Regions from separate parts of the Homo sapiens genome. Here all the other regions are linked to region 4. The links come from fine-mapping of genetic effects on gene expression. A gene starts in region 4. Each other region holds a variant in brackets. All regions are shown on one strand. Distances are from middle to middle.

The links. PIP is the estimated chance that this variant, and not a neighbour inherited with it, causes the effect.
Region 1: its variant is fine-mapped to the expression of TIAM2 in whole blood (TOPMed, PIP above 0.99).
Region 2: its variant is fine-mapped to the expression of TIAM2 in whole blood (TOPMed, PIP above 0.99).
Region 3: its variant is fine-mapped to the expression of TIAM2 in whole blood (TOPMed, PIP above 0.99).
Region 5: its variant is fine-mapped to the expression of TIAM2 in whole blood (TOPMed, PIP above 0.99).

The regions. Positions count from the first base shown.
Region 1 is chr6:155,260,698-155,266,843 of GRCh38, forward strand. The region is part of intron 5 of TFB1M (transcription factor B1, mitochondrial); the gene reads right to left. It overlaps CLDN20 (claudin 20), which reads left to right and starts at 3,316. Exons shown (of 2, transcript NM_001001346.3): 1 at 3,316-3,591. The variant G/C (reference allele first, on the strand shown) is at 1,789.
Region 2 is chr6:155,325,795-155,332,022 of GRCh38, forward strand. No RefSeq gene overlaps it. Among named protein-coding and RNA genes, the nearest start is that of TFB1M, 14 kb to the left of the region's middle. The variant T/C (reference allele first, on the strand shown) is at 3,022.
Region 3 is chr6:155,238,758-155,244,985 of GRCh38, forward strand. It overlaps TIAM2 (TIAM Rac1 associated GEF 2), which reads left to right. Exons shown (of 27, transcript NM_012454.4): 16 at 1,773-1,952; 17 at 5,254-5,322; 18 at 5,901-6,026. It also overlaps a transcript of TFB1M not described here. Among named protein-coding and RNA genes, the nearest start is that of CLDN20, 22 kb to the right of the region's middle. The variant A/G (reference allele first, on the strand shown) is at 3,657.
Region 4 is chr6:154,992,636-154,998,863 of GRCh38, forward strand. It overlaps TIAM2 (TIAM Rac1 associated GEF 2), which reads left to right and starts at 2,680. Exons shown (of 27, transcript NM_012454.4): 1 at 2,680-2,857. RefSeq lists enhancers at 2,574-3,181, 3,182-3,787 and silencers at 2,628-2,767, 2,858-2,937.
Region 5 is chr6:155,221,249-155,227,476 of GRCh38, forward strand. All of the region lies in intron 15 of TIAM2 (TIAM Rac1 associated GEF 2), which reads left to right. Among named protein-coding and RNA genes, the nearest start is that of CLDN20, 40 kb to the right of the region's middle. RefSeq lists an enhancer at 2,506-3,705. The variant C/T (reference allele first, on the strand shown) is at 3,530.

The DNA of each region.
Region 1 (6,146 bases), 270 kb after region 4:
TCATTAAAGTCAGTCAGCAGATAATAGATGGCATTAGAATATTTTAGTTTTTGAATGAGGAAAAAAATAAGCCGCAGCAGCAGCTTCAAGACACAGAGAGATGGCAGACAGGCCCCCAGGGACCACTCAGTGCTAAACTTCCCAGATAGAGACACCACTTATTTTCGGTAGACACTGATTAATCAGCTGGACTGAATTCATGAGTGTAGTCTGAAAAGCCACAGAACTTTCTAGTAGCAATTTTAAATGCCCCGAAAGGCATAGGCAGGACTGAAATTGAAAATGGAAACCATCAAAAAATGTCACTGTTTGATAGTGTTTAAGCTACTGCCAGCTGTGGAGATTCTTTAATTGTCAGAAGATAAAACTTTTCAGGCATATCTTATAAGAGATTTATACCCTGATTTGTTCCAAAAATGGACTCATGGTGATTCACAAGGACAAATTCAAATACCAAAGGAAAAACATTTAAAGACAGAGGGAAATGGATTCAAAACAGTAACTACACACACAAAAATGCTAACGGAGACCATGGTCTAGGAAATGGGAAGTCTCGTCATAATTGACAAAAGCCTCAGTCTCCAGGAATTGTTAAACTTGTTAATGAGGATCTCATACAGACTCAACAAAAGGCGAAGAAAGTACGGCAATTTAGGAGGTGTGGGCTGCACCACTGCTTTTCAAAAGGAACTCCATTGTTGAAATCCCATAGAGGTTGTCATTTTCTCCTAAGAGGACTTGCTTCTAAAGATCCTTGTGGCTACATAATTCCTTAAACAGATGAAAATGGGAGACTGGCTTTTCTGGTTGTGTTTCTTTTAGGGTAGAAGGAAAACAACTGAATATGATGTGAGACTTTATGGACAAGAAAGTGAAAATAAGCTGTGCTCAGCCTCACACAGCCTGACGCGCTTGTGGGAGGTGCCTGTGGTGCCTGAGCTGTGTCATCAAGGCCCCGGACCCCTGAGAGCTTGCACCTCCCTATTTAAACAATCAATGAGCCTGTCCCCGAAGGTTTCAGGTCAGCTACAGCTGCTCCTACTGGATGGAATGGGAAATAGAAGGCTTTGGTGGTAAGGGGCGGTGTGGGCTGGCGCATGCTGAGAATGTGCCAAGCGGCCTTTCCACACCCCAAATGCCCACCCCCAACATCCATCAGCCTTCTTGTGAAGTCCAGCAGGCTGTTCTTGTGAAGATTCTATGGTGGAACAGTAGTTATGAACAGTGACTTAACTAAGATGTCAAATGCTCTTAATAAATTTTAGTAAGTTTTTTGAATTGTGTGCTATATGTTGTTTCATGTTTCCTCAAGTTTAGTAACAACTACCTCTTCCTACAGGACTTCCCTTAGACTTTAACAAAACGCACCATAGAACAGTGCCCAGCTTGGAGAGGTCTGTGGTCATCAGGGAAAGAGGGACTGAAGAAGACAAGGGGCTGTGGAGTGGATGCAGGGTGTAGGTGGGGTAGATGTACTGCTATAGGGAGAGAAGAAAGGTGGTTTCAGCTCAGGGCAGTTCTGGGGAAGGAAAAAGAAGACCTGATCTATGAATGGCAGAGTGCAGGCAGCAGCCCAAGACACACTCCACTGACTTCAGATGTCAGGTTCCTTCCCACAAACTCTGAACTATCCTGCCTACCTCGCCTCCTCCTGATTTGTATAGAGAAGTGGTCCCAACTGTCAGGCATGTGTCTGGCCACTCTCTACACCTCGCCAGCCTTCTCTCACTGGACTCTCCATTTCCCTTTCATCCCCTGAGCTTCCTGGCACCCTTGTCCCTGCCTCCC[G/C]TTCTCCAGGACTCATCTCCTGTAACCCTTCAACTCCAGTTCTCCCAGTGACAAAGAGCCAATTCTATCAATTCTTACTAGCAGCCTGCTAGTCTCCAGAAGAAATACTCTTAGCAAAATCTGAGATAAAATCTAATCCCTGCCTAGGCCTAAAACCATGAAATATTATCAAAACTCTACATAAGGCTTACAAACTATTAAGACCAAAAGCACAAATACAGAGATAGATGCACTCTCTTCCAGTACAGAAACTGCCACTTTCAGCTTCCTTAGATTTTAAATTTTGGCCTCATCTTTATTTGCCTGATTTCATTCCTTTGAGATATAGTTGGTATTTGCAAATACAGGAAGTGTCTAACTTTTGCTTGATTTAAATAAAGTTTTAAAACCCTGAACAAATATAGTAGTACCCCATGTAAACTATAGCGTCGACTTCTAAAGTTTGAATACAATTCCAATACTCTGTTAAGTTGGCTTATATTATGTCACGGCTAAAAGAGAATTCCCCTCACAAATGCAGTTACTATTTAGTGGGAGATTCTGTAAAACTCAGCGTCAACAAAGCTCTTCCAGTTATGTCTCCTGCTTCTGGGACGGCCAGGACCTCTCCTGTACCACCCCTTCCTCTCCCTTTCCCCCAAAGGCACCTTTCAGAATTACTCTGAATGATGGAGCCCATTTTTTTCTAGAACTATAGGAAAGCTGCTTGGTAACTATGGTAACGAATACAAAAATGTTTTTTACTTATAATTGAATGCTTATTTAAAATTACAAGTATTATTTTTTCTTCCTTGAGTTTTAAGTCTATTAATGGGTTTGATTACAAAAAAGAAATCAGTACAAAGGCATCAGAAGTACTTAAAATATTCTAGTTTAATGCCGCCAGCCTTTTCCAAACTCAGTCCATCAGTATACCAAAATGACCTACTAAAATTTCAAATGAAAGGATTTAAAATGAATTTAAATATTTGCCTTTCTAACCCTATACGTCAACGCTGTAACAAGCTAAGACTGTTTCTCAGTGTTAGCAGCCTTGGCCATAACAGGCCCGAGGCAGATGTCCTAGTTTCCAGGCCAGGGTGTCTAGGACGTGACTGGTTATCAGCTCAGAGCAGCACTTGGAACTCACAAGGGACCCGGGCTAAGGAGATATTAAATCTTAAATCTTAGATATTAGATATTACAACTGAGAACTGTAATCAACATGATATACAGAGGACACTGAAGAGACGTACAACTCAGTTCCTGATGATTATCATATGCCCAAAAGCTAAGTCACGACCACATGCACAGACACAGAAACAATGCTGGCCACTGTCTACAAAAGGGTCTTCATTCAACACTCTCACGGTGTTCAAGACCATTAGAGGACAAGATAGTGGAGATGAAAAAATGATGAGGAAGTTACTATGTAAATAGCCAAGACACAGCCATAACTTAAGACAACAGAAGGGCTAGTGAAAAAAAAAAAAAAGACCACAGGGAATAATCAGTAAGACTTTAAAGAACAACATATAAGAAGGATTCAAAGTTCGAAGTGGGATGATCACGGGCAGACCTGGGTGGTTGGGAACAGGAAGCATATGGCATCTTGCAGGCTATAGGCACCACAAAATGGAACGCAGGAGGACAGGGGCTTGGGAGAGCCACTTCACTGTCGGGTAAAACAACGGAGCAAGATGAGTGCCTCCGGATGCTTGGTTTCCCCACCCTCCAGTGTCTGCTTGCTCTTCAAGTACCTCCACCAAGCTAATGACAGTCCACTTTAGGACATCACGGGCCTCGAGGTTACAACTTTCCCAGGTAAGGAGAATCCCAGGTAGAGGCAGCAAGTCACTGATGCCTGTGATATGATAATTATGCATGTCATAGAAAAAGAAAATACTGACAAATGTGAATGTAGATCACATTTTCTGGAATTGGTTCACTCTACCTGTGATCCATGTCCAAAAGCCAATTTAAGGAAAGAATTTCCACTGTAAAACCTTAAAGCTGACAGCATTCTAAGTATTTCAAACCAACTGGTTCAATAAAGATCAACTACACGGTCAGTACCTATCCTAAAGTTTACAATTTGTGTTATTGTAACAATATTTATTTCTGCAGAAGTTCTGTCCTCACCCTTTTTTCTTCCTACAGATCTTTGTTTTTTTCTCTTTCTTCTTGGGATCATAAAAAAAGAACAGATTTTAAACAGTCACATAGTGTTTCCTCTCAGAGCAGATGTGGTAGGAAGAACTGAGGCCAAGAGAATGACAGCAAACTCAGATCACAAGAGAAATAAGACTAAGAAATGTGGTGAGGGGGATGAAGAGTTTTTTTACTGTGTAAATTATGTAAATGTACATATGTATGTATGTAAATTACACCTATTAGTAATAACAACAACAAGATGAGTCAGTGTCTCTTGGTCCCAAGAGATTAAACAATTTCAGGGAGATGCACGTGTAATCCTCAAGAAAGCACAAATGGAACAAGAACTGACAATTGTTGTATAAAGGTTTTCTGTTACATTTAATCTGGAGTTCCTGGATGATCAGAGGGAAAAGACCTTCCTAAAACTAGGCCTTTTCCACAAACCACGCCCTTGGTGTCTGTGAAGCAGCAGCATCTGGACGTGCCCTGTGTTTCCTGTCCCGGGCTGTGCTCCCGCTTGGGTTTGTGGATGTGGCAGGAGCTGCCTGAGGCAGCTTCGAGGCTGCCCAGCCGGGCCATGGGTGTGGCAGCACATTGGCAACTGCCAGGGTCTGGACCCCAGCGCTGCAGGTCCTGAGCAACTCCCGTCCCTCAGAGAGAAGACAGGACCTCAGAGAGGCTCTCAATCTAAACAAACTCAGAAGGCACTTGATAAATGCTGCTAGTAATATTATTAAAAGACTGAGAAATAGAACATGCATACAAATATAGTAATTCATAATAAACCATAATTATCAAACGGACTAGACATCACACTGAAGATGCTTGGTCAGTACATTCGTATATTCATAGCTGATACTGTTAATTTCCTAAGGCTGGGACAGAAGAAGAACATTATTTTAGGATTAGGTCAAATCACTTTAAATTTGTAGGGCTGGAACAGGTAACTATTTTATCTTACTCTGAACTGTCATTATTTTCAAGATTGAATGGAAAGCAAAGAAGAAAAAACATTTGTATTAGGGTTCTCTAGAGGGACAGAACTAATGGAATATATATATATGAGTTTATTAAATATAAATATTAAATATATTTATATATAATATAAATATATATTATATATAATATATAATATATATTTAATATATAATATGTAAATATTAAATATATATATAAAGAAGAGTTTATTAAGTATTAACTCACATGATCACAAGGTCCCACAATAGGCCATCTGCAGGCTGAGAAGCAAGGAGAGCCAGTCCAAGTTCCAAAACTGAAGAACTTGGGAGTCCAATGTTTGAGGATAGGAAGCATCCAGCACGTGAGAAAAGATGTGGGCTGGGAGGCTAAGCCAGTCTCTCTTTTCACATTTTTCTGCCCACTTATATTCTAGCTGAGCCGGCAGCTGATTAGATGGTGCCCACCCAGATTGAGGGCGGGTCTACCTTCCCCACCTCACTGACTCAAATGTTAATCTCCTTTGACAACACCCTCACAGATACACCCAGGATCAATACTTTGTATCCTTCAATCCAATCAAGTTGACACTCAGTGTTAACCATCACAACATTTTTTTTAAAATTCAGAACCCCAACTTTTCATTAGAATTAAATGGACAGCATTTGAAAAATACAAGGATGGGGCTCCATCCCAGAAAATTAAATAAAAGCCACTGGGTTGGGCCTGAGCCTCTTGGGGCTTTTCCAAAGCCCTCGTGTGGGCAGAAATGAGAATCACAGGTTTGGGGAACAATCCTAGTTGCTTGGGAAAGTATCACACAGTCAACTCAAATCCTGGAGATTAAATTCACTAGAAGTGCAGCTAGAGCCCTGTGACACCCACAAAGCCAGCCTGAGTCCCTGCTGGATACAGCTCACCAGGGGGGATGAAAAGCCAGATACAAACTTCCCCAGTCTCGCTCACAGTTAAGAATGACCAAATGAGGCTGGGCGCTGTGGCTCACACCTGTAATCCCAGCACTTTGGAAGGCCAAAGCGGGCGAATCATGAGGTCAGGAGATCGAGACCATCCTGGCTAACACGGTGAAACCCCGTCTCTACTAAAAAATACAAAAAATTAGCCAGGCGTGGTGGCGGCCGCCTGTAGTCCCCGCTACTTGGGAGGCTGAGGCAGGAGAATGGCGTGAGCCTGGGAGGCGGAGCTTGCAGTGAGCTGAGATCGTGCCACTGCACTCCAGGGTGGGCGACAGAGCGAGACTCCGT
Region 2 (6,228 bases), 330 kb after region 4:
CAAAGTACTCTCCGTCACCAGAATACAACCTGAAAAGAGACAGTGGTCTTGACTGACTAGGGTTAAAATGTCTTGCCTTTGTAAATTTTACAAAAACATATACCATGTGAGTAGATTTCTAGAGCCCTTCCCAAGGCTTGAAAATGGCTTGTTCGAGTGATAGGCCCTGACATTTCAACTTCTCATGCTTCCTAGTTAATCTGCTTGTATACAGGGAGAAAGGCCAGACTGAACAACCTCTTGGGACACCATTATTAGAGACTAGATGTGTCATCAAGGCAAAACAGGGCTTCTCTACAATGCAGAGTCAGTTGTTTGTATTCCCTGAAAATCAGGCCCTGAGGCAAGGGTGTGGATGCAGGTTGTTTGTTTAATTGCCCCTCCTGGAGAGGTAATCCCAGGAAGCACAAGTGAGGAAGTCGGGAAAATGCCATGGGAAAAGGAGAAAGGCCAATTCCAGGGGTTAGGGAGTAGTTTCATGTTAGGGCTCCAGGGCAACTGGGGCTCAATCCCAGGGGATCTTTTGAAAAACCGTGTGCAGCCCAACTCAGCATTGTCCCACCAGAAGCTGGGGAGGCTCCAAAGCCCCCAGGCATGGAAGACAGCAGGGGAGGTGGGGAGCTGTCAGTTTGCCTGGATCACAGCTGCAGATGAACTCAGGAGGACCATACGGATCTGGGGTGGGGCAAAGCCAGGCAGCATCCGCTACCCTCTGTGAATCTTATTCACCTGAGTTTAGGAACTCAGAATTATTTAGAGTGATAAGGACTCTTCAATGTTGTGGATCTTTCTCATGCCATAAAGAGGATTTTGAAGTTAGTGGACAATGTGAAGTCATCCCTAACTTGCCAGAGGAAGTGTTCAAATCCAAGTACTGAAATTCTAGAATCAAGACATTTTGAACCAGAGATGAGTATTCTTTTTTTTTTTTTTTTTTGAGACGGAGTCTCCCTCTGTCGCCCAAGCTGGAGTGCAGTGGCGCGACCTCGGCTCACTGCAAGCTCCGCCTCCCGGGTTCACGCCATTCTCCTGCCTCAGCCTCCTGAGTAGCTGGGACTACAGGTGCCCGCCACCATGCCCGGCTAATTTTTTGTATTTTCAGTAGAGACGGGGTTTCACCATGTTATCCAGGATGGTCTCGATCTCCTGACCTCGTGATCCGCCTGCCTCGGCCTCCCAAAGTACTGGGATTACAGGCGTGAGCCACCAAGCCTGGCCAAGTATTCTCTTTAAACTGAAAGAAGGCATAGTTAGAATTTCTAATTGCCTTTAATTAAATCTATCACCTCCTAAGTATAAACAAAAGTGGTGAAATATTTTTGGATATACCAACAATGAACAGTTCATTAATGAGAATGAATTTTACCTTTCTGACGGTTCCCATTACATAACTTTATTCATTTTGAGGAAGGCAAGGGCTGACCATTTTATGCTCATCTACTATGGTCACCTATTAAAGGCTGGAATTATGATAATCCAAGGGGGAAAATAAAATATTTAAAATGAGATTGGTCTAAGTAGGAGAATGAACATCAGGCTAAGTGTTAATTTTGTCCCATTTAGTCAGCTCCATAAATCTTGAGAAGCCATTTTTCTTCTCTGTGCCTCAGTGTCCTCATCTGTATGTTAGAGGGCTTGGATTGGCTGATCCTGAAGGTCACCTCCAGTTCTGAGGTAGTCCTTGAAAACATGAGGACTGAAGCCTGGCCTAAGGCATGGGTCTTATTGTGGTATTGTGGACTTGACCAAATGTTAACCTTTCTGACCTTCAGTTTTCTCCTCAGAAAAATGAAGGGGCTGGGCTATTCTTTAAGGACACCTCTGTTCTGCAGTCCAGATAAATAAAAGTGTGAGGGGAAAAATCTGGAAAAATGCATAGAGTGAAGCTCAGCATGGCCACTGGGTGGCGATCTTGTTCCATGTTAAGAAAAATTTTATGGCATTTACCAAGAGTTTCAAAGTTTGACTTAGCATAGTGAAGAAAGACTTTCAAAAGGATAAAAAAACAGGGCAGCAAAAACCAGAATTATGGGGGAAGTGACAATAAACAGCAATGCCAAATAAGAGACATAAAATCCCTGTAGCCAAGGCAGTAAAACATAGAGGGGTATATGAGAGTTGTGTTTTGGGTATTATTTAAAGGAATATAGGGAGAGGAGTACATTGTAAATTCACATAGTTTTTGAAAAACATGACATAAAAGTTAACTCTAACATTTAAAAATTAAACTTGTAGAATTACCAAATACCTTAAGACTGTGCTAGAGTACTGAAGTCTAAACTTGAACAATCCAAACCAAATCAGTAAACATTTGTTATTTCTTTTGTTTAAATCTCAAAGGAACACTTAAGGGAATTGTAACACTGTTCCAATCTTTTGATATTAAATCAAGTGAGCCAATGAACAAGTTGTGAGCTTTTTTGCATTTTATGGGAGGAGGTGGTCTGTCTCACTTACCTTGAGAATCTTGGGATGATTGTTCCTGGGGCTAGCCATTGCCCCTGCATTGGGTTGAGGGCCATTTCTCGGGGAAGAGCCGAGCATTGGGAGGAATGCAGAGGATAAAGGTTCTCTGATCATAGTGCCGCCCACCTCTATCTCTAGAAAAGGTTATATTCAAAGAAAAACACAATTTTCCCACCAAAGCACCACTCGGCATGAAGGGAAGAACCCAGAGACTCGAAGAGGACCAGGTTCACACTCCTGAAGATGGCAGATTATGTCTCATGCAATAAGCCGAGATCTGACAGCCAGAGGATGACTAGGCCACAGTCTGCCATTTCCTGTTGTTGACTTTTCTGTTCACCATCCCCTCTGGTTTTCTCCCAGTTAGTCCTTATCCTCCTTTTGCTAGGTGGATACAGGTTTCTTCTGAGGGCCAAAGCCTGGGCCCTATTGCTCTGGTTGCCATGGCTGTTTCTTTTCTCTCCTTTCCTTTGATACATTAGCTATTAGCTTACGTAATCCTCTCACCGGTGGATGTTCCCATTCAAAAGGCAAAAAAAAAGTTATATTGCTAAG[T/C]AACCTTTAACAATGAATACCATTCATTATGTATTTGCTTAATGATACAAAGGCATTGTTTGCTCTATTGCAGGTGATAACAGCAGATCAAAGACCCCGAGGCCGCCGGAATGTGCTTGAGAAGAGCCAGCAGAGACTGTGTGGAAATTATGCTTAGCATTTATGTTGCACTTTATACTCTTAAAGGATTCTGCAATTATTAATTAATTATCCCACACAATAGCTCTATGAGGAAGGTCAGTGTCAGTAGCTTTATTTTACAGATGAAGAATCAGATAGCAGTTAAGCGATTCCCCCCTTCCCACCTCAACATTTAAAGATCTCATGTCAAAGCAGACCTGGGGTGGGGGCAGCAGGTAAGTTACAAAGTGACTGAAGAGTAAACAGACTAGGGCTGCCTCTTGCCCAGGCTCCACTTCCTTTGATCTGTCTTTTGAAAGCCCTCTGAACATAAGCTAGGTTCTGGACTTGCATACTGCCTCCCTGGGCAGCCTAGTTGCTCTTGCTGTGCTTGTCTTTTCTACATATCCACTGTTGTGTGTGTAATTTTAATTTCCTTTTCATTCATTCATTCATTCATTCATTCATTCAATGAAACTTATTTGGGCATTTATTGTAGTTGATTTGGTTAGGAATATAGAAATGAAAAACATGATTCTTGCCTTTGAGGAACTTCAATTTCTTAATAGGGACACACACAGACACACACTGCTGGAGGACATGGGATGAAAAAGGTGTTAATTCTTCTTGGCAGCATCACGAAGGTCTACACTGAGGAGATGGTGTTTGAGCCAATCTCTTGATAATGCCATGCTTGTGATCCAAGCAGCAGGATCCTGATGGTCCCTAAAGGAGAGATGATAGAAGGTATCCTGAATGTCGGCGACTTCACATTTGCGAAGGCCAAAGCCTGTTAGGTCAGGCCTCCTGTTGGCTAGTGTGATAGACTCTTATCCTATAGTGTTTTAATTATTTGTGTGAATGTTTTCCCTTTTTACGAGACTAGAAACAATTTTAAAATGAGGACAAATTCTGACGGCCCACAGCATATTGTAGGGAATAACAGCAGGAATAGCTACCATGTATCGAGTAAATGAGCCTATTCTGTTTAGTGCTTTACATAGCTGATTAAGCCTGCCAAAAACCTTTGAGGCAGTATTGTTCCCCCACACTGTTTTTTTTTTTTTTTGGGAAAGTTTAAGTAATTTGCTCATAGCTACATAGTTCTGTGTGCTATTGAACAAGCTTATAGTCCCCACATGTAGCTTATAGTCCACGGCAGAAGACAGACATTAACCAATAATAACCATATATCAATGTATAATTACAACCTGTAATAAAGTCTCTGAAGGAAAAAACAAAACATGCAGTATAGGAGAAGCTAGCACAGAATGACCAGATCTGCCCTTGGGCCAGTAGACGTGAGGAGAGATATGAAGGAAAGGCCAAGGTCAGGGAGCGCGTACCTGGAGGTTCTGATGGTGAGGCTGAGTAATGAAAGATACGTGGGTGTTAGGTAGTCCAAAGAGAAAGCATGTGCAAAGGCCCTGGTGTAGGAGGGAGCTGGGAGTATCTGAGAATCAGCAGGCAGGTCTGCTGTATAGAGGAGATGACTGGAGAAGGAGAGGTGGCACATCTTGTAAGATTGTGTAGGCTAGGATAGAGCTTGATGTTTAGAAATGATAGGCATTGCATTCGCAGGTTTTAAGGGAATGCATTCTTTGATGAGATGAATAGTCAATCTGGGTGCAGTGGGGAGAGCAAATGGGAGAGGAGTCAGAGTGTGAGAAGGGAAAGTGGTTAAGAGGGTATTATAGTAATTCTGGGGTGAAATAATGGTGAGGCCAGGGTGGCAATGGTACACAGGGTGAGAAACATGTGTGTGAGATATTTGCAAAGTCAAGGACAGGTCTTGGCGATGGGTGCGAAGAAGTGGGGTGGGGAGGGAAAGGAAGGTGTCAAGGCTGATTCCCAGGTTCCTGGCTTGGACAGGTGAATGGTTGGAGATATATATAGGATGTGGTTTTGTATGCTGGAGGGGGACCAGGAGTTTGAGAGGAAGGGTTCTTGAGTAGGTGGCAGAGGAATAATTTGAATCTAGGTCTGTTTTTCATCAAAATGTGCTTCTCATCAATTCCTGAAACATACACATATTTTTGGAAATCCACACTGAATGACTCTTCCATCTTGCTAGTTCTGATCAGCTTCTATTGTCACCACTGTGATCTTCCGGAAGAAATGCATTCACTTTTGTTGCATAATCAATAAGTGACATCGGTGGGAGAAATGTCCATCCGGACCGGAAGGTATGGGAGGTCCTTTTTGGGAGGTGATACCTGTAATTCCTCAAACCTTGCTATTCAGCAGTGAGAGTTACGCTGCCTACGTTGAGCTCTGGCTCAAACTGCTAGGGTTTGAATCTTGCCCCATGACTTGCTATCTCTGTGATGTGGGCATATTGTTTAACATTTCTAAGCCTCCCTTTCTGTAAAAAGGAGATAATAACAGTATCTTCTCCATCATGAAATTGGCTGAAAGATCAAGGCTGCTGCTAGCCCACAGGACACCTTTGTGTGAATTAGAGAAAGGCTCTCATTCCTCAAGTGAAAAAAGAACTTTTGAAGTTAGTATATTATATACTATCATTAATTACAATTATACAAACATAAAGTCATTCTGAATAAATACTGTACATCAAATGATTAAACAATGTAATATTCATTTTGAATTTTTAATTACAATTAGAAAATCAAATTTATAGATAACAAGTCAAAAATTTTAACAGCAGTTAATTATAAAATTTCCATAGCAACAAATAAACAAGTGCTCTAATATAATCAGCAGATTGTTACATAGTAATCTCTAATTTGTCAATTTAATACATACTTTGTATATTATTGATGCTAAATTATATTAGCTATTACCTAGTTATTTGTATCATAATGAAAATGCCTGTATACTTAAAATAGAACTCTGCTATCTTACTTGAGTACAGAAGACAAGTGCCAGAGTATATGAAGTATAAAGATTTGAAAAAAATTTAAGATACTAATCAGTTAGTACTTCAGTGAGAAAAAAATCTTATTTAGAAATGTAGGTTATTTTGAATGTTGTTAGATCATCAAGATCTTTTAATAATCAAATATATTCTTCCTTTGTAAGTCCAAGCAAAATGTAATATATATCAATCCTATTAAGTAAGACATT
Region 3 (6,228 bases), 250 kb after region 4:
ATTCCAGATTGCCTTAGGCTATGCTTTGGGGTTTCCAGCCTTGGTGAGTCTTACCTCTTTGTGTAGGAACTGTTTCTACTTCTTTGGAGAAAAGCAGGCCCTCAATTGATGACCACTGAATTGAACTGAAAGACTAGCCAGAGATCAATGTTGAGTTTTAATGTGGATTGTATATTTCCATCATATGACAACACTGTGTTGGTGGGGGTTGGGGCATAGAACAGAGAGGGCAGTTGAGAGTGGCCTCTTTTTATTTTGGGGTGCTTCAGTTTGTCAAGAGACAGACTGTATAAAAAGCATGCATCAGGCTACCAAGTTTGACCAACATGCTTGTGTAAGCTTTCTGCAATATCCAAGGAAAGAAAATGAATTATGTGAATATTAAGAGATGCTCCTGAGAAGTTCAGCTTCTTACCCAAGACAGAGATGGATAGAGGTCAGGCATGAAGGCATTTAAGCTGAAAAAAGGAGAGTTTTTTAGTTGACAGTCAGAAAGTTGCTGGCTGTTAATGGATGCCAGTCATTTGTGTTGGGACTCAGCTGCGTTGTTCAGTAAGAATTTCAGTGCAGCAGAGGTGGGCCGAGTACCTCCTGTGCTGGCCAGTGAGCTGGCTGCTGGCGGAGATGTGAAAGAAAGAAGCCACCCTGCCCTCACTGGGCTTCCAGATGGGGAGGTGGTGAAGTGGGGTGGAGATGTGAGGGTGGAATGGAAAGAATGAGAAGTAAAAGGACACTTTGTAATCTGACCCTGCTCCAGCAACTGTGGAAGCGTTTCACCTGTGAGGCTTTCCAGCCAAAGTCTGGTGGATACAGATAGGCTGTCTTTGAGAAGGCGGAAGCACATGGTGCTTCTGTCTGAATAGGAGCTTGTGCCAAAGGCCAGTGGTCCCCCCAGATGGTCATGTTCCTTCTTGTCTCTTCATCTATGTGATTCCTTTCCCATGACTGGGAGCGAGTATTTCCTCTGAGCCCACATTCCCTAGGCCTGGCCCTGGCTCCCTGCTAAGACCAGCTTAGCTCCCTCCTCGCAGAGGTTTCCTCTGGGGCTGGTTGATCCCTGGCCTCTCATCCTCGCCAGGCCTTATGTGTCCTCTGCTCCCTGCCTGTGCGCTCTGCAGGGCTCTGCACCCCTTTAGGGTGAGGGTGTTACCATCTTCATCTGCTTCTACTCCATTACTAGCATGTGCACCAGCTCAAGAGTTTCTCACTCATAATTCTACTTGCCACAAGACTGTGGAGCTGAGCGGTTAGACTGGAGGGCAGAACTCCTGGCCCACTGTGGCCAGGTCGTCCTGTAATTGCTCTTGGGCTGTGCCTCTCTTGAGTCTCTCCGGGCTGTTCTGTGTGGGAGATGGAAAACTGGATTAGGCCAACCATTGAGGGGACTGGGTGGGCCTGTTGAGGCCATCTGCTCTTGTTGCTCCCTAGAAAGCCATAACTTCTTGATTTCAGAGCTACCTCACCTTGACTGCAGAGGGTTAGCCCTAGGCAATGACTCTGTAATTTCAGGTCCAAAGATACATCTAACAGCTGATGTGACAATGGAGAGCCTCGTGTGTAAACACTGAACATGAGTGTGGGCGCACATCTTCCTTACTCAGATCCGAAATGATAGCCAGAGGGGTTTGAGGTGAATGAAACCCTTTGCCCTACACAGAGGCCCCTCTGAGATCCCTGCTGAGCACAGACGGAGACACTTGGTGCCCTTGGGGGCAGCGGATACTATCAGGGAGAGGCCCGTGCATTATTTTCCACCTCTTGTCCTCTCTCAGAGTGCTGAGCAGATCACTGCACTGTGCAGGAGTTTTAACGACAGTCAGGCCAACGGCATGGAAGGACCGCGGGAGAATCAGGATCCTCCTCCGAGGTCTCTGGCCCGCCACCTGTCTGATGCAGACCGCCTCCGCAAAGTCATCCAGGAGCTTGTGGACACAGAGAAGTCCTACGTGAAGGTAAGGGAAGAGCTGGCATTTATGCATTCGTGCCTCTTTGATGATGGCAAGTGGTATGCTGGCAGAGGTCCCCAGATCACCTCTGCCCAGGACACCTGCCACTCCCCAGGGGGGGACACCTGCTCCTTGAATCAGTGAATTGCTCAAGGAAGGGAGGGGAAGAGTGAGAGGGTGGAAGAGCTGAGGAGACTCAGAAAAAAATTAGATCCTTGGCTTATTTTGTTACCAAGGTAGCTTTCACTATGGAAACAGATGTTCTGGTTTGTCATTTGCAATCTGTGGGAAGGGAGTCTGTACTGGTTTAGTATAAGGGGAGAGAGATCACTTTAGGTGATGAGGAACTTGGGAACAATCTGTACATACGTGACGGCTGATCCAGGCCCCACAGTCTTGGCGGTGGCCCGGGCCAGCCCTGCCTGGTGGTTGTCATCGTGTAGAACTGGGACGCACACACTGGGGAGTGGTCAGCACGTGGGAATATCCTTGCACCATTATGAAGGGGCAGTTGCCGAGTATCTTGAGTACCCGAAGAATTCATTTATCCATCTCATAAGCCCCCAGTCAGTGGTTTGAGAAAGATTTTATGAAGAATACTGGAGCCTGGGGAGCAGAGTTCTTTTGCTTTGTTTCCTGGAGCTTTGGTACCATTTGAAGCTCGCTTCATTTGTCAGTTACTGAAGCAGCGCGGCACGGTGCGGTGGGCTGAGGGTCCAGGCCCGGCTTTGCCTCCCTCTGGCTGTATGGTGGATGGCCCCCTTCAACTCCCTTATTTGGGGTCTGAGACACTCGGTCCCCCTTCTCTAAATGTCTTCCAACTCTGACGTGCTGGGTCCATGAATTAAGGCTTGGCACACACGTGCGGCTATTACCTTGCTCTGCAAGACAGATCTGAGCTTCCCCCTTTTGTTGATGTCGCTGTTTTACCAGGACTTCACCTAAGGCCCTATTCACAGGTAGCTTCCCAAAGCCCCTTCTTTTGGCCTCAGAGGGGAGAAAGGAAAGTTAGGAGAGATGACAGTTTAGTTTCATTTTCCATTATGTCTTGTCCTGCATCCAGGGTGTGGAGATGAAGTGAACAGCCAGGCTGTTCAGACTCAAGTTCTGAATAATCCCATCTCCACAGTCACCTTTTTCCAAGTCGCTGTGTGGCGCTGTAGATATTTTGGAAGCTTCAGAGCCCTTCTGACATCTTGAGAATAGTCATGGAGCTCTTGCCCCAAGAGTTAAGGGCAGAGTTGAGAGGAGAATCGATGTCCCTTTTTGGTAATAGTGTTGTTAGAATTTCCTGTTAGGCCACGCTGTACTGGGAGGGTCATTTCAGTGACAGGCTGGCAGAGTACTCAGATGGTGTCATGGGTGAAGTAGACAAGGACCGACTCTCCCTTCTCTCTGCAAGAAACCTGCACTTTGTTTTCTTAGGGCCCCCCTGGGTTGCAGCCCTTTGCCCCCCGCAGCTCTGCGCGGACCTGATTTTGCTGTCCAGGAAGTCCTCCCAGGCAGCACCAGCCTGTGAGGCATGACTGCCAGGCCCCAACACCCTCGGACAAAATAACCCACACTTGGCACCTGTTGTGATTCACACACACACCACCGTTTCTTCATTTCTTTTTTGTTGCTGACGTTTAACACAGAATCTTGTTGTTTTTTAACCTGGATCCCCTGCATGCTCCTTGAAATTTTTGACATCTATGTGTTCCCTGAGAT[A/G]TGATTCAGTAACTTCCATCATCTCCCTTCTCTGAGCGGTCTGGCGTGGAATATGGTGAGGGAAGGCCAGGGAGGTTTTTATGGTGAAAGCATCCGTGTCACAGGCCTTGCCTTTTGCTCTCTGAACTAAGGCCAGAAAGTTCTGGGGATGCTTTGGGCTTTATAAAGCTCTGGGTCTTAGGTTCCCCTCTTGGGAAGTGAGGGAGTTATTATAGCTGACTTTGCAGTCAACTGCTTCTAGTATTTTAGGACTCAAAATTCTTCAGAATAAAAGAGAAATCTTTTCTATCACTGAACTATATCCTGGTCTTGCCTTCAAATTATTATTATTATTATTTTGGAGATGGAGTCTCGCTCTGTCACCCAGGCTGGAGTGCAGTGGCATGATCTTGGCTCACTGCAACCTCCACCTCCTGAGTTCAAGAGATTCTCCTGCCTCAGCTTCCTGAGTAGCTGGGACTACAGGCACCCGCCACCACACCCAGCTATTTTTTTTTTTTCTTTTTTTTAGTAGAAACAGGGTTTCACCATGTTGGCTTGGCTGGTCTTGAACTCCTGACCTCAGGTGATCCACCCGCCTCTGCCTCCCAAAGTGCTGGGATTACAGGCATGAGACACCATGCCTGGCTTTGGCTTCAAATTATTAAACAAAATCTTTCGCTCATGGGTTTTGTAACTGCAGTCTACTCCCACTATACTGTCCTGCTGGAACCTCGTTTGCAAGACAGCCAAATATGGCTTAGAGTTTAGCCATTAGAGCTGCAGCTCTGTGGGAGTTTTTTATTGCCTTTGAATATGTGAGTTTGAGATTCTGTGAATCAGTCAACCCCAAAGTTGAAGGGCTCCCCAGAACTTGACCCTCCCAGCTCCATGCTGGACCTCTCACTGTGCTCCCTGAGGCAGAAGAGGCCAGGAGCTGGGGTGCACCTGACACCAGTGCCACCCAGACGCCCTTCCTCTGCAGGGAAGTGAGTGCCCCTGCTGCAGTGGCCTGAAGAAAGGGTGTTTCTGTCACCAAGACACTTACCTAAGCAGAGGGAATGATCGAGCTGTAAAGGTGTGGAATCCAGCTGTTGCCTGTATTGTGATATTAAACTCTTTGAATTAGGTGAGCAATAATCACTACTTTTGGGGTCAGGAATTTCAACAAAGGCTGGGTGTGGTGGCTCACGCCTGTAATGCTAGCACTTTGGGAGGCCAAGGCAGGAGGATCACCTGAGGTCAGGAGTTCGAGACCAGCCTGACCAACATGGTGAAACCCTGCCCCTACTAAAAATACAAAAATTAGCTGAGTGTGGTGGAGCACACCTGTAGTCCCAGCTATGTGGGAGGCTGAGGCAGGGGAATCTCTTGAACCCAGGAGGCAGAGGTTGCAGTGAGCTGAGATCATGCCACTGCACTCCAGCCTGGGTGACAGAGCAAGACTCCGTCTCAAAAAAAAAAAAAAAAAAAAAAAAAAAAAAAGAATTTCAACAAGGCATAAACTTCATTATCCTGATGGGAGCCTTGGGAGCTGCTGCCAGGTTGCTGCTACCCAAATCTCATGGGTATTTTGGAGACTAAAGCGTTGAAGACACTTTCTTCTATTTTCTTTCAGGATTTGAGCTGCCTCTTTGAATTATACTTGGAGCCACTTCAGAATGAGACCTTTCTTACCCAAGATGAGGTAAATAAAATCACCTTCCTTCTGTCCAGTGATCCACAGGTTAGTCTCTGTTTGCCTTTTAGCAGAACTCCTATGAGAGTATCTCTGTTGATCCCAAAAGAACATCCCAAGACTTAACGGTCTTCTGAGAGTCCCAGGCATAGCCTCCTCCTAAACCACTGCTGTGGCCTCGGCTGCATGACCCAGTGGCAGAGTGTTTACAAAGGCAGAGGGACGGTTATGGTCTTTTTGAGGTAGAAGAGAGTGTGATCAGAAATTCCTTTTCAATACATACCTTTGTAATGTGAAACCACATAATTAGTTCTACTGACTTACATTTTTCTTAATTTGAATTCTGAGAATTTTACATCCACTTAAAAATTTACTGTAGTAATAGAGAATTATGGGGGATGGAGCTGTGAAACTTTCTATGTATAAGCCATATCCCATAATGAATGTGCTGTCTTCTTAAAGGATTTACTTTCTGTCTGCTTTTCCGTGAAGAATTTCCTTGTGATTTATTTGTGGGCCTAAGAGTTAGCGTGGTGTCCTGAACTTCATGGCTAATCCCCTCATTTCAAATCCTGATCTTCACATAGATGGAGTCACTTTTTGGAAGTTTGCCAGAGATGCTTGAGTTTCAGAAGGTGTTTCTGGAGACCCTGGAGGATGGGATTTCAGCATCATCTGACTTTAACACCCTAGAAACCCCCTCACAGTTTAGAGTAAGTATCTCAGATTTAGGCTTAAAGTAAAAATACGTGGCTATGGTACGTATTTCTCTCATGAGAATTCTCTCATGAGAAAGAATTTCTTGTCCTGTGACTATTGACTATTTATTGTCCTGTGACTATTTCCTTGCACCGTTTTCCTCTGTCAGGTGGTAAAGGAAGGCTGTATATATTTTTTTTTCCTGGCGCAGGTGCT
Region 4 (6,228 bases):
TTTTTGCGACGGAGTTTCCCTATTGGAATGCAATGGCGTGACCTTGGCTCACCGCAACCTCCACCTCCCGGGTTCAAGCGAATCTCCTGCCTCAGCCTCCCAAGTAGCTGGGATTACAGGCATATGCCACTATCCCCGGCTAATTTTGTATTTTTGGTAGAGACAGGGTTTCTCCATGTTGGTCAGGCTGGTCTCTAACTCCCGACCTCAGGTGATCTGCCCGCCTCGGCCTCCCAAAATGCTGGGATTACAGGCATGAGCCACTGCGCCTGGCCTGCTCTTCCCATTTTCTTTTGTCTTTCTTACTAACCTAGTCAATCCCCCACTACTCCAAGTCCCGTTATAGTTAATAATTCTTTGTATTAAACTTTCACTGTTGAAATCATTGTGTAGCCTCTCTCTTGGTTGGACCCATATGTACACACGTGGGTGGTATGGGAGCTCAGACTCTGGTTACTTGGCTGTCAAGGGATGGTGTCTCACAAGAGGAGAGGAATTAGAGCCATCTGGGTTCTATATATTTTTTCAAGTTTGTACAACAAACATGTTACTTTTATAATCAGAAAAATATTTTAAAATAGTGCGAAAAATGCAATAAAAGAAGCAAGAAAAATAAACACATACCAGCACCCCCCCACCCCCCGTCTCAGTGTGGTAGGTGTGAGTCAGAAGTAAGAAGTAAATAAGTGTTGGCCGGGCGCCATGGCTCACACCCTAATCCCAACACTTTGGGAGGCTGTGGGCAGATCACTAGAGGTCAGGGGTTCGAGACCAGCCTGGCCAACATGGTGAAACTCCGTGTCTACTAACAGTACAGAAATTATCTGGGTGTGGCGGTGCATGCCTGTAGTCCCAGCTACTTGGGAGGCTGAGGCAGGATCACTTGAACCCGGGAGGTGGAGGTTGAGCGAGCTGAGATCGTGCCGCTGCACTCCAGCCTGGGCGACAGAGACAGACTCCATCTCAAAACAAAGCAAGCACCGCCCCCCCCCACCCCACCCACAAAACAGTAAATAAATGTCAAGGAAGAAAAGGTCTTTGGAGGTGATGCTTGAATTGAGCATGGAAGAGTGAGTGGAGTGGGAAGATATTTTCCTAGGCAGAGCCAAGTGCGCAAAGATGCAGACAAGACCAGGGGAGGGCCTACAGAGTGGGAGGGGCCAGTCACTACTAGTTCGGTGTGTACAGAGCCTGTGGTGGTTGAGGGTGGAGAGCAGGTCTGTCCGATCCCCGCAAAGCCTGGAGGCTTCCTTTTGATACTGGGTGTGTTGTGGGAAAGCTGATTTCATTTGTCTTTTTGACTCACAGTTCTCCACGGATCTCCCGTTACGGAGACTGGGTCGTATTCACGCACTGCACCTAACTGACCAGGGCCCTGGCTGCTGTGCTCTGAACTCCAGCACTGGGATTGTGCCCAACGCCACCCTTCCCACCTGGCCGCTCCCAGCCAAGGACTGGTGGCGGCATGGACACGAAGGCAGGCAGGTTCCGGGGAGAATCGGGATCCCCATGATGCGTAATTTTGGCTGAAGGGCTCACGGATGATCTTGCTGAGCTTTTCTTAGACTGCAGGGAGGCCGGGATGGGTGCTTCCCTCCCTCCTTCACTTGGGCTCTGATTTGCAGAAGGTCCGGCCCTCTCCAGCTCTCACGGCTCCCTCCTCATTTAGTTCCACGGCCATTTCCCCCAAGAAAACCCTCCGCATCTAGTCCTGAGTGGGCGCTGCTTCTCGTAGGACCCACCCTAACACATGGCCTGCATCTACCTTCCCTTCCCTCTCCTCTCCAGGGTGCAGCCTTTTTCAAGGCGAGGAGAGTGATTCCAGGCAGCTTTCATTCCTGGGTCTCCTTAGCTCCCTCGCCCTTCCCAGCATCTGGGCCCACTGGGCCACTCAGGCTTTTCTAATAAAAATCGCAGCTTTGGCCCAGTGCGGTGGCTCACGCCTGTAAGCCCAGCACTTTGGGAGGCCGAGGCGGGTGGATCACCTGAGGTCGGGAGTTCGAGACCAGCCTGACTAACATGATGAAACCCCCATCTCTACTAAAAATACAAAATTAGCCGGGCGTGGTGGCGCGTGCCTGTAGTCCCAGCTACTCGGGAGGCTGAGGCAGGAGAATCGCTTCAACCCAGGAGGCGGAGGTTGCGGTGAGCCGAGATCACGCCATTGCACTCCAGCCTGGGCAACAAGAGCGAAACTCAGTCTGAAAAAATAATAATAAAAATCGCAGCTTCTCCACCTGGAAAGTCCCAATTCGACTGGGTCTTGGAGTGCCGACTCGATTGCCATCTCCGCTGCGAAGCCATCTCCTCTCAGAAGGGGAAGGAGATGGAAAGTCTCTGCGGCCGCTGACCTCAGTTTTGCGTGCCTTTCCTCGGTGGGACCCGGGAAGAGCCGTCTTTAAATTCCTTGGGGAAGGGACGGGGTCGCACTGGCGCATCGCATCCCCGGTAGCGGGCAGAGCCCCCAGCTCACAGTGAGCGCGTGCTCGATGTTTCTTGAATTGTTTTATTTGTGTTGTTCCAAAGAAAGCGCGAGGGACATGGTCCGGGACCAGCCGGGAGCTGGCGCGGGGGTCCTGGGCCTGACGCTGGGCGGGGCTGGGGCGTGTCCGGGGCGGGGCGGGGCGGGAGGTGCGGTCGCGGCTCGGGCCTGGCAGGCGCTGCGCGCGGGGCTGGGGCAGCGGTAACCGTAACTGTGGCCGCGGCCGCCGCAGGCGCACAGCGCGCGTCCAAGTGGAGAACAAAGTGACCCCCAGAACTTCTCCAACTCCTCCCGGCGTTCCCGCGAGGGCCACGCGCCGAGGGTAGCGGAGGGCGGCGCGCGACCGGCCCCACCGAGCCCGGCGCGCGACCCGAGGTAAGGGGCGCCCGGGTGAGGGCGCAGGAGGGCGACGACCCGCGCTGGTTGGCGGCGGCTCCAGGTCCCCTGCGGGCGGGGCGGCGCGCGGCCGGCGGTCCCCTCCCTTCCCCTTTGTTGGCCGCCCCTCTCTGCCCCCGCTTTCCTGGGAGTCCCGCGGAAGGTCGCGGCTGCGGGGCGCGGCCTGGCACCCTCTCCCCGGAGGGCGGCAGCGTCCGGGCACAGCCTGGCACGGGGGACGAAGCACTTTCCAGAAGGCTCTGAAACTAGGTCCCCTGGTCCCCTCGCGCTGCGCGACACGCCAGGACCCACTTTCAGCCCCGGTCCCATCCCGGATGGGAGGAGGCGGCGCCCCGGCCTCCTGATACCGAGGTTCTCGCCCAAAGCCGAGCCGTGGGTGCCCGGAGGGGAGCGCCCGCTGCGCCCACGCCCGCCCGGCGACCTCGGAGCCTCAGAAAGGCGCTGCGGCGAAGCAGGATCCCAGGCGGTCGGCTCAGCGAGTGTAGACCGTGCGGTCCCTGCTCAGCCCCTCCGGCCTTTCCGAGCGCGGGAGCCATCCCGGACGGGCGCGGCTCCTGGGGGGGCTGAGGTGCCAAGTTTCTGTGAAAGCCGACACGTTGTGCCCCTAATGGATCCTATTTACCAAAAACAGTTCAGAAAGAAAAGAGTCCATTCTTCCAGCCATTCGTTGCTGACAGCCGCTGGAAAGGTCTGGGAGTAACATTGCACGAGGTATTTCTATCTTTAAGGAGCGGCGAAATTTAATATTGATGAGCTTGCATGCCGTTTTTTTAAAATAGACAAATAGGTTAACTTTATTTAAAGAGGGAGAAGGCTGCTTGATTCCAAAGATAATTTCATTCAGGGGGAGGTTTTCCTGCTTTTCTCTGCAGAATTCAGGCAAGAGGCCACTTGGTGACACTCCTCAGCCTCCTTGGGTAATGGTGAGACCTTTATTTACTATGCGATGAAGGGCCTGGGATTCTCTTCTCATGGTTATTCACACATTCTACCTTTTGCTCCCCAAATGATGCTGACCACCTTATTTTAACAGACAACACCGGCTATCTCCAGTTCTCTTTCCAATAGATTTAAGCCAGAGTGTCTCTAAAATCTTACCAAGTTTCGTACAGGTGCGGATCATATGCTATAAATGTTTCAGTCCTAGGCTCTGGATAAAAAAGTGTCCATGGTTTTATAATTTGGGCTTAACCAGTAGAACTTGTGTGTATACACTCTTAGAAGTATTTCCTGATGTGCTTAAGATTGTTATGTTTTAAAAATATAGTATCATGATTGGTGCAGTTTTGTAAGCAAACTTTTGTTCCACCGGATTTTACCTGCTCACTTTATAGGAAAATAAAACTTGTTGCTTTAGGGTGTCAGAGGTTTTTGTGTTGGGTAAATGTAAAAGAACATGGCAAGGTATAACTGAAGAAGAGTTTATTATTTACTGTGGCAAAACACGCCCCTAATGACCTCAGAATCAGCTTTCAACACCTTCACATACCATACTAAGATGCTTCATAATGTGGCACCTGCCTGCCTTTCCAGTTCCATCTACTGACTTTCCCCAGGCCTCCTGGCTCTCCCCCGCTTGCACACTGCCTGCTCTAGACACACCAAGCTACTCAGAAGTTGTTATTTCCAGACCATTGTTTGGAATGAATGAAATTCTGCTTACACTGTTCTTACTCCTCTTGCCCATCTGTCAATTACCCACGCATTCTTAATGTGTCAGTCAAATACCTTCTCTAGGAAGCTTTTCTTCCTTATCCGTAGGCGAAGTTAAGCTCCTCCTCCTCCAGTAGTCAGTGCTTCTACTAGAACACATTTTTGTATATACCTCTGGCACTGCCACCTTGCACAGTTGTTCAGGCTGTTCACTACACAAGGTCATCTTGTCCAACAGGCAATTGGAGGCTGAAATCCGATTCACACTCCACTTGCCAAGCCTCTAGTGCGCTCCTCTCCATTGGAGAGGATACATTTGGCAATTTAACCAAAAGTACAGTATGGGTTAGTAGTGACCCTAAGCCTATCCCCACTACTGTACTTAGCATCCATCACTTCAACTGATGTAATAGGAGCTCAGTTAAGGTTCCTAGGTTCCGTGAACGAGTGAAGAAAGAATGGATTTTTTTTTTTTTTTTTTTTTTTTTTTTTGAGACAGGATCTCCCTTTGTTGACCAGGCTGGAGTGCAGTGATATGATCTCAGCTCACCGCAGCCTCAGCCTCCCCAGCTCAATTGATCTTCCTTCTCTGCCTTCCAAGTAGCTGGACTACAGACGCGTGCCACCACACCTGGCTAATTAAAAACATTTTGTAGAGAGGGGGTTTCGCCATGTTGCCCAGGCTGGTCTCAAACACCTGAGCTCAAGTGATCCACCCTCCTCAGCCTCCCAAAGTGCTGGGATTGTAGGCATGAGCCACCGTGTCCGGCCAGAAAAGATTACTTCTCACGAACTCTAGAAAGAAGTAAGAGTTTGGGGGCAGATTTTTTTTGTATAAGTCAGTATACAGAAATCTGCTTCAGTTTGCTTTATCTTATGTCTGGGCTGTTCAAATGATGCTTAGACAGATGTCTTCTCCTTGATTACAGGGAAGAATCTGCGAGTGTGAATTCATGGGTGGGCGTCAGGGATTTGTGTCAACATGTGGTGCTTTGTCAGCTGATGACTTTTCTAGCCACTCAGGTTTACGTGTCTAATCGTGATTTGCTAAGAGAGATAAGGGGGCAAGAAACTTGCAAGTAAGGCCCTAAAGAGCTTTGCTCGCATAAACATGTGCTAATAAATTGCATTGGAGTGCCGTTTTGTATATAAGAATTTAAGCCATCCTAAAGTGAGATGTCACAGAATTAAACTAAGAAAGTAAGAAGGGTTTGAGTCTGATTTATTTAGGATCTCCAATGAGATCAGTATTTAATATCACAGTTTTATGCATGAAAAATGCAGTTTTCATTGGGAAGGGGCCATTTGCAAGCTGAATTGGCTGCAAGAGTTGTAAAAATGCTCCAAATTTTGTATGTAGTTAAAAATTAACAATTTGTGGGGTGATCTGGTGGCATTTTTCAAGCTACAATCAATATGTGAATTATCATGCAAGCATTTATAAGATTGTGATATAAAATTATATACTTGTAGATGTCAAAAGTGTTTGCTAGTTATATGGAATCTTGGAATCTCTAGAATTCATAACATTGGAATAACTTTAAGGATAATATGGATCAATTCTCCCATTTTATGGGTAAGGAAACTGAGTCCCAGGAACTTATCCAGGGTCACTGAGCTTGTGTAGAGGCATAGCCAGGACGAGCTTTCAGATTTCCTGGCTTCGACTTCATATTCAAGTACCTATAAGAACAGCC
Region 5 (6,228 bases), 230 kb after region 4:
CTGCGCTGGGGTGGGCTGGAGGATCAGGGCCTGTCAGGTGGAATGCTGGCTCTGAAATTAACTTGCTGAAGAGATAATGACACTCCCGTTCCTCATCCTGCTGGGACAGTGATGCACAGGAAAGTGACTTGGAGACTACTCAGAGCTGAGGCCACACAAAGATTTGACTGAGCAGAGATGCTGATCTTCACCTAATGCTTTATTTGCCACGTTTATTTCTGATACAGGCTTCTCCTTTTTCTCTCCATTGAAACAGCGGGTGCCATGGTTTTGCTCTCATCCTGTCTGAGATGACACTTGAAGTGGGATATGTTTGACCTTTTCAAGGCAAACAGAAAGCCAAGTTCAAGGAGTCATCAGCCAGCTCCCTGCAACTTAGGTGGTCGTAAGGGACCTCTTGCCAGAGCTGCTTGAGGTCTCCCCTTTAATTTTGTCCACCTGGATGACAGTGAAGATGGGGTTGAACGGCAAGTGTCCCATGTCTGTCCTCTTTCTTCCATCTTCCCTCTCCATGCCCCTCAGCCCTCTATTTCCAGATCTTTATTTCCTTTCTGGGCTTCTGAATTAGAGATGGAGCTATGGAGACCTTGATATAATTTTGCTTTCTGTGGGAGAAGAAAGCAGGAAGTTTGATTTCTCAGGCCAAACTAGCCTCAGTGTAAATACCATTTGCAGGTTCTTGCCTATTCTTCTTCTTATTTATTTATTTATTTTTGTTTTTTTGAGAGGGAGTCTCACTTTGTTGCCCAGGCTGGAGTGCAGTGGCGCGATCTTGGTTCACTGTAGCCTCTGCCTCCCGGGTTCAAGCAATTCTTATGCCTCAGCCTCCTCAGTACCTGGGACCACAGGTGCACGCCACCATGCCCAGCTAATTTTTGTATTTTTACTAGAGACGGGGTTTCACTATGTTAGCCAGGCTGGTCTCAAACTCCTGACCTCAGGTGATCCACACTCTTCAGCCTCCCAAAGTGTTGGGATTACAGGCGTGAGCCACCACACCCGGCCTGTTCTTGCCTATTCTTTGGGGAAGCCACCTCGACATGGGGTACACTCGGAGTAAGAACACATGGGTTGGGTGGGCGTGGCTCACGCCTGTAGTCCCAGCACTTTGGGAGGTTGAGGCTGGTGGATCACTTGAGGCCAGGAGCTCAAGACCAGCCTGGCCAACATGGTGTGACCCTATCTCTACTAAAAATACAAAAATTAGATAGGCATTGTGGCTCGTTCCTGTAATCCCAGCTACTCGGGAGGCTGAGGCATGAGAACTGCTTAAGCCCAGGAGGCAGAGGTTGCAGTGAGCCAAGACTGCACCACTGTACTCCAACCTGGATGACAGAGCAAGACTCTGTTTCAAAAACAAAAAACAAACAAAAAAAAAAAACACAAAAAAAACCATGGGTTTTTTGCCCTAAGTCTTACACTGAGGAGCCGTTTCTTCATCCTTGGGTAAGTTGTCAAACTTCCCTATCTGTGAAACTCAAGGGTCCGTCTGACCAGCTGTCCTGCCCTGATGTCTCTCCCTGTCTGTCTTTCTGCCTGAATGCCTGATCCAAAGCAGCTTTCTGCTAGATATCCCTTTTTATCCCCATGAATATGGAGAGCTGCTTAGAAGAAGAATCTTAGCAGAACCCTATTAGAATTTGCTTCGGTCGTTTATTGTCCTTCATGCATTTCATTGAAGCTAAAACCTGTAAGATTTTTGGAGGCTTCTCAGGTAATGGTATGCGAAGGTCAGGATGGTTAGATACCGTATTTCCAGATGCTCTCTGCTCTTTTATGCACTTACGTTATTTAGGAACTTATTTCAAGCAGACCATTTGAGAATCTGAGGAAAGCTATGGGTCCCCAGAAGATTGCTTATGCACATACGTTAGAAATTGCAGACAATTCCAGGGAGCTCCCCAGTCTTACGATGTTTATTCACAGCTTTCCCTGTTAGGAATTTATGAACCGTCAGTTTGTGATCCTTACTTTGAGTAAACATCTGAATAGCCTAGCCTGTGTCTTAATATTATTGATATTGCAGAATCAGTTATCAAGTACCTGCAATATGAACAGCACTGTGTTTATATAGTCAAGTGATATTTTGAACTTTGTTTTTATCTTAGTCTAATTGCTTGGGTGAGATTAGCTATTAATGCTTTATTTTTTTAATGTGCTAAGAGATGTTGAGGAACGTTAAATAAATAACAACCCCTAGATGGCAAATAAATTATTAGGTTGAGACCAGAATAGATTATATTGATGATGGTGGTTAGACATCCCCAGATTTTTTTTTCTTTTTTTTTTTTTTTTTACTCTGCACTTCAATGGATGCAAACCCAGGTTGTTAAACACCAATCGCAGCATTACGTGCTGGGATGTTTTGGCATTTTGAAAGTTTTATTTTCTATCATTAGTGAACAAAATGGGTTTTTTTTTGGAGTAAGAATTTTAACATTTTGATCCCAAACCAAACTTTTATGGATCTCTTTAGTAAAATAAATAGCTGTCTGATGGACTAGGAGGGGTGTTTTTTATGCTCAGCGTAAGGGACGCTCAGGTGGCTGTGGCTCCTGTGTTCCCCGGCAAGGGCGTTGCCAGTGAATTTCACCCTTCCCCTTTCCATGTCAGCAAATTAGCTAAGCCCTTGTTGTCGTTCGCCCTTTTTCTTTTAAAGAAGTAATAGGCACAATTACTATCTAATTTTGGCTTGCCACTGTGTGGGTGCCTGGAATCTCATCCGATCTTTAATATTTACCCAGGGGGGTGGGTGTAGTGTCGCATTATTCATTCACTCATTAAATCCCCTTCACCGAGGCCTGCTCAGATGCTTGCCATTGTTCAAAGTTCTGAAATCGTCACCTGGCTGCCTTCTGTCAATATTCTTGCGTAGAGATTGTAGTCCAATGAAAACCTTGTACTGAGTGAAAGAAGATGTGTTTGAGTTTCAAGGCATTTTCTGTGCCTTTCATGACTCATAGCAGATTCTCACCTTGTGATAAAGTTCCGGCTCCACAGTGGTGGCTGCTTTTGCTTTTGCAAAAGTAAGTTGTGAGAAATTGTTCTGAGTCATTTTGCAATTTCCTCTATAGACTCAGCTAAGAGTAGATGTGTGTGTCATGAGTAGATGTGTCTGGAGTTGAGGGAGGAGGGGTCATGGAAAAACTCTGCCTGGAAGTGCTTCATCCAGGTACACATGATGGTATTTTCACCATCTCAAACACTAGCTTCTAACTGCTGAAGGTTAAGATGGGATCATTCGTTTTGTAAATCCGTCTCCTGCTGTCTTGATAATAACATGAAGAAAAGGGCAAGAAAAACATGGATGTGTCATTAGTATGGAAGGAAGGAGGAGAATGGAGGTTTGTTTTAAAGGCACCCCCAATTCTCTTTCCCTCTTTCATCCTTTCGTTGGTTCTTGCCCCTTCCACACCCCGACTGTGTTTGTTCAGCCTCCAGCGCATGCTGCCGCCTCTGCTATTCACCTGCCTTTGCGCTCTCTCATTCTTTGCTGCCACCTGAGTCCTCTGGTGTTTTCAGAAAACAG[C/T]TGGCAGAGGAGGAGGCTCTGAGATGTGCAGTTGCTTAGAAGGTTCTGGCCTGGCATCTGCACAGCGGGGATTTCATCACCAACTGCTCAGAAACCACAAATGCTGCATGCCTGGAGGAGTCCTGCCATCTTCCTACCTTGCATGCCACTCTCAGCTGGTTTTGGGATTTTCTATTTATTTGTTTGTTTGTTTGTTTGAGATGGGTCTCGCTCTGTCACCCAAGCTGGAGTGAAATGGTGCGATCTTGGCTGACTGCAACCTTTGCCTTCCAGGTTCAAGCAGTTCTCCCACCTCAGCCTCGCATGTAGCTGGGATTACAGGCATGCACAACTGCACACAGCTAATTTTTGTATTTTTGGTAGAGATGGGGTTTTGACATGTTGTCCAGGCTTGTCTCGAACTCCTGACTTCAGATGATCCACCCACCTCGGCCTCCCAAAGTGCTGGGATTACAGGCATGAGCCAATGCACTCAGCTGGGATTTTTAAGAGTTTATTCCCTTCTTGGTTCATTCAGGCATAGATAAAGGGCAGTCTGAGGGCCCGGGTGACACACCCATCAGGACAGGTTGGTGCTCTGCCTTCCTCTCATTTGAGCACCGAGGTCTTGAATTTGGGGCTTATACAGATGAGTTACCAAGATGGGGAAAGGTGGACCATCAAGCAGTAATACAACGTGAGGCTTACAGGTAACTTCTAAGTGTGGGGCTTTAAAGAAAGTCTCTGTTCACATTCTGTCACCCTCACTCTGTCTCTTCCATCTTTTTCTTGCCTGAGTGTCCTGGTTCTGCTGCCTTCTCTAGATCCCCAGCTCTTCTCACCACCAGGGATACCTGGCTTTGGTTCCCATGTATTTATTGATTTCTATTTTTAAGAAGTTTGATCAAAACTGTCAAGTTATTTATTGAAAATGATAGTTGTCTTAGTTTAAATCTTATTCCATTTCTGTTAGAAGTCAGTGTAGATTATAGAGTGGTAAAGTCTCAGATAAATACTTATATAAATAAAGATAGGTATTGTTCCATATAAGATTATCATTATTTTGAGAACCTGTTGATGAGGGTGCCAGATGTGACTGTTGCATTACTCAAATCCAGCAAAAAACACTGAACAAAAACCATAATTAAAGGGGCACACAGGGTATCTGTGCTCACTTTAAGGCAAGTAGCCCTTGGCAGTACCCCTGCTTAATTAAGGTTGCCAGGATATTAACATGTAATTGATGTTTTATATACTTATAACTTTCCTCCCAGAAGCTACAATTTTTTTGAAACCAGATTCCAAGCATTGTTTTAAGCCAATATTAGAAGAGAAAGTGTAGGGCTTTCTAAGCATGAAGAGGATGTGATTTCAGACGAAATCATAGCACCTGGACCCTGTCTCCCTGCCCCCATCCCATTCTTCATAAGCGATGAAAAGCATCTTTGATCCATGAAACCTGAAAAAGCAGCCATCAGTAGAAGTAAGTGTGACGGCTGAAGGTGTCATAAGATACTAATGTACCAGTGGGGAATGGGATGCAAGGCTGCTCAGCCTCAGTAGCCCCCTTGGCTGGCTGAGCATCTTTGTGGGCTCCGCTTTTAAGTGGAAACAAAAGATTGCTGATGGTAGGTTGGGTGTGGTGGCTCACGCCTGTAATCCCAGTACTTTGGGAGGCCGAGGCAGGTGGATCACTTGAGGTCAGGAGTTTGAGACCAGCCTGACCAACATGGTGAAACCCCATCTCTACTAAAAAAAATTAGCTGGGTATGGTGGTGCACGCCTGTAATCCCAGCTACTCAGGAGCCTGAGGCAGGAGAATCACTTGAACCCAGGAGGCGGAGGTTGCAGTGAGCAGAGATCGTGCCACTGCACTCCAGCCTGAGCAACAAGAGTGAAACTGCATCTCGGGTGGGGGCGGGGGGCAGGGAAGAAAAAAAGATTGCAGATGGTGAAATTTAAATGCTTAAAAAAATCTTTAAGAACTCATAATTTGCCTGCAACAAATTCAGGTGGTGACATAGTCCCTTTCATTCCCCCAAGTCAGAGCCCGTGCCCCTGTGTGTCTGTCCCCATCAGTGAAACTGGGGCTTGGTTTCTTCTGGAGAAGAATAATCCAGGGCAAGTCAAGCTGTTTGTTTTGCGCCCCTGTCTCTGTTGCTGAGTTGCTGTCACCTTGAGTTGGCTCTGACTGTCCCGTGGCGAAGGCCATCCCAAACAGCACATTTGCAGTATGTGCTCGGAGAGTGGGATACATAAGAAACAGGAGAGTTAACTAGAAGGATTTTCCCTCCTGCTCTACTAAGTTGGAAAGGAAAGTAGATGTTTGTCTCTTAATTTGCTGTTGCACAAAGTGAAAAGATACTTGGACCAGAATTGCTGGAGCTTTCCATGCACTCACAGTGGGCTTTGGAAAAATCATTCACTCCCTTGAATCCTTATTTGTTAAGAAAGTGGGATTCCATTTCCACAACTGTTTCATGGCTGTGAGGTGAAATAAAGACTAGGCATGCGGAATGGCTTTGTAAACTGCAGGGGTGCTGAGTCAGTCTGCGGAGACTTAGCCCATGGCGAATACAATGTGTTTTAAATACATCACTTCATTTAAACCCGTTTTCCCCACAACCCTATTGAACAGATATTACCAGCCCCATTTAGCATGAGAAAACTCAAATTCAGAGATGTCAACTAGCAGGCCAGTGTGTCCTAGGCAGTGACTG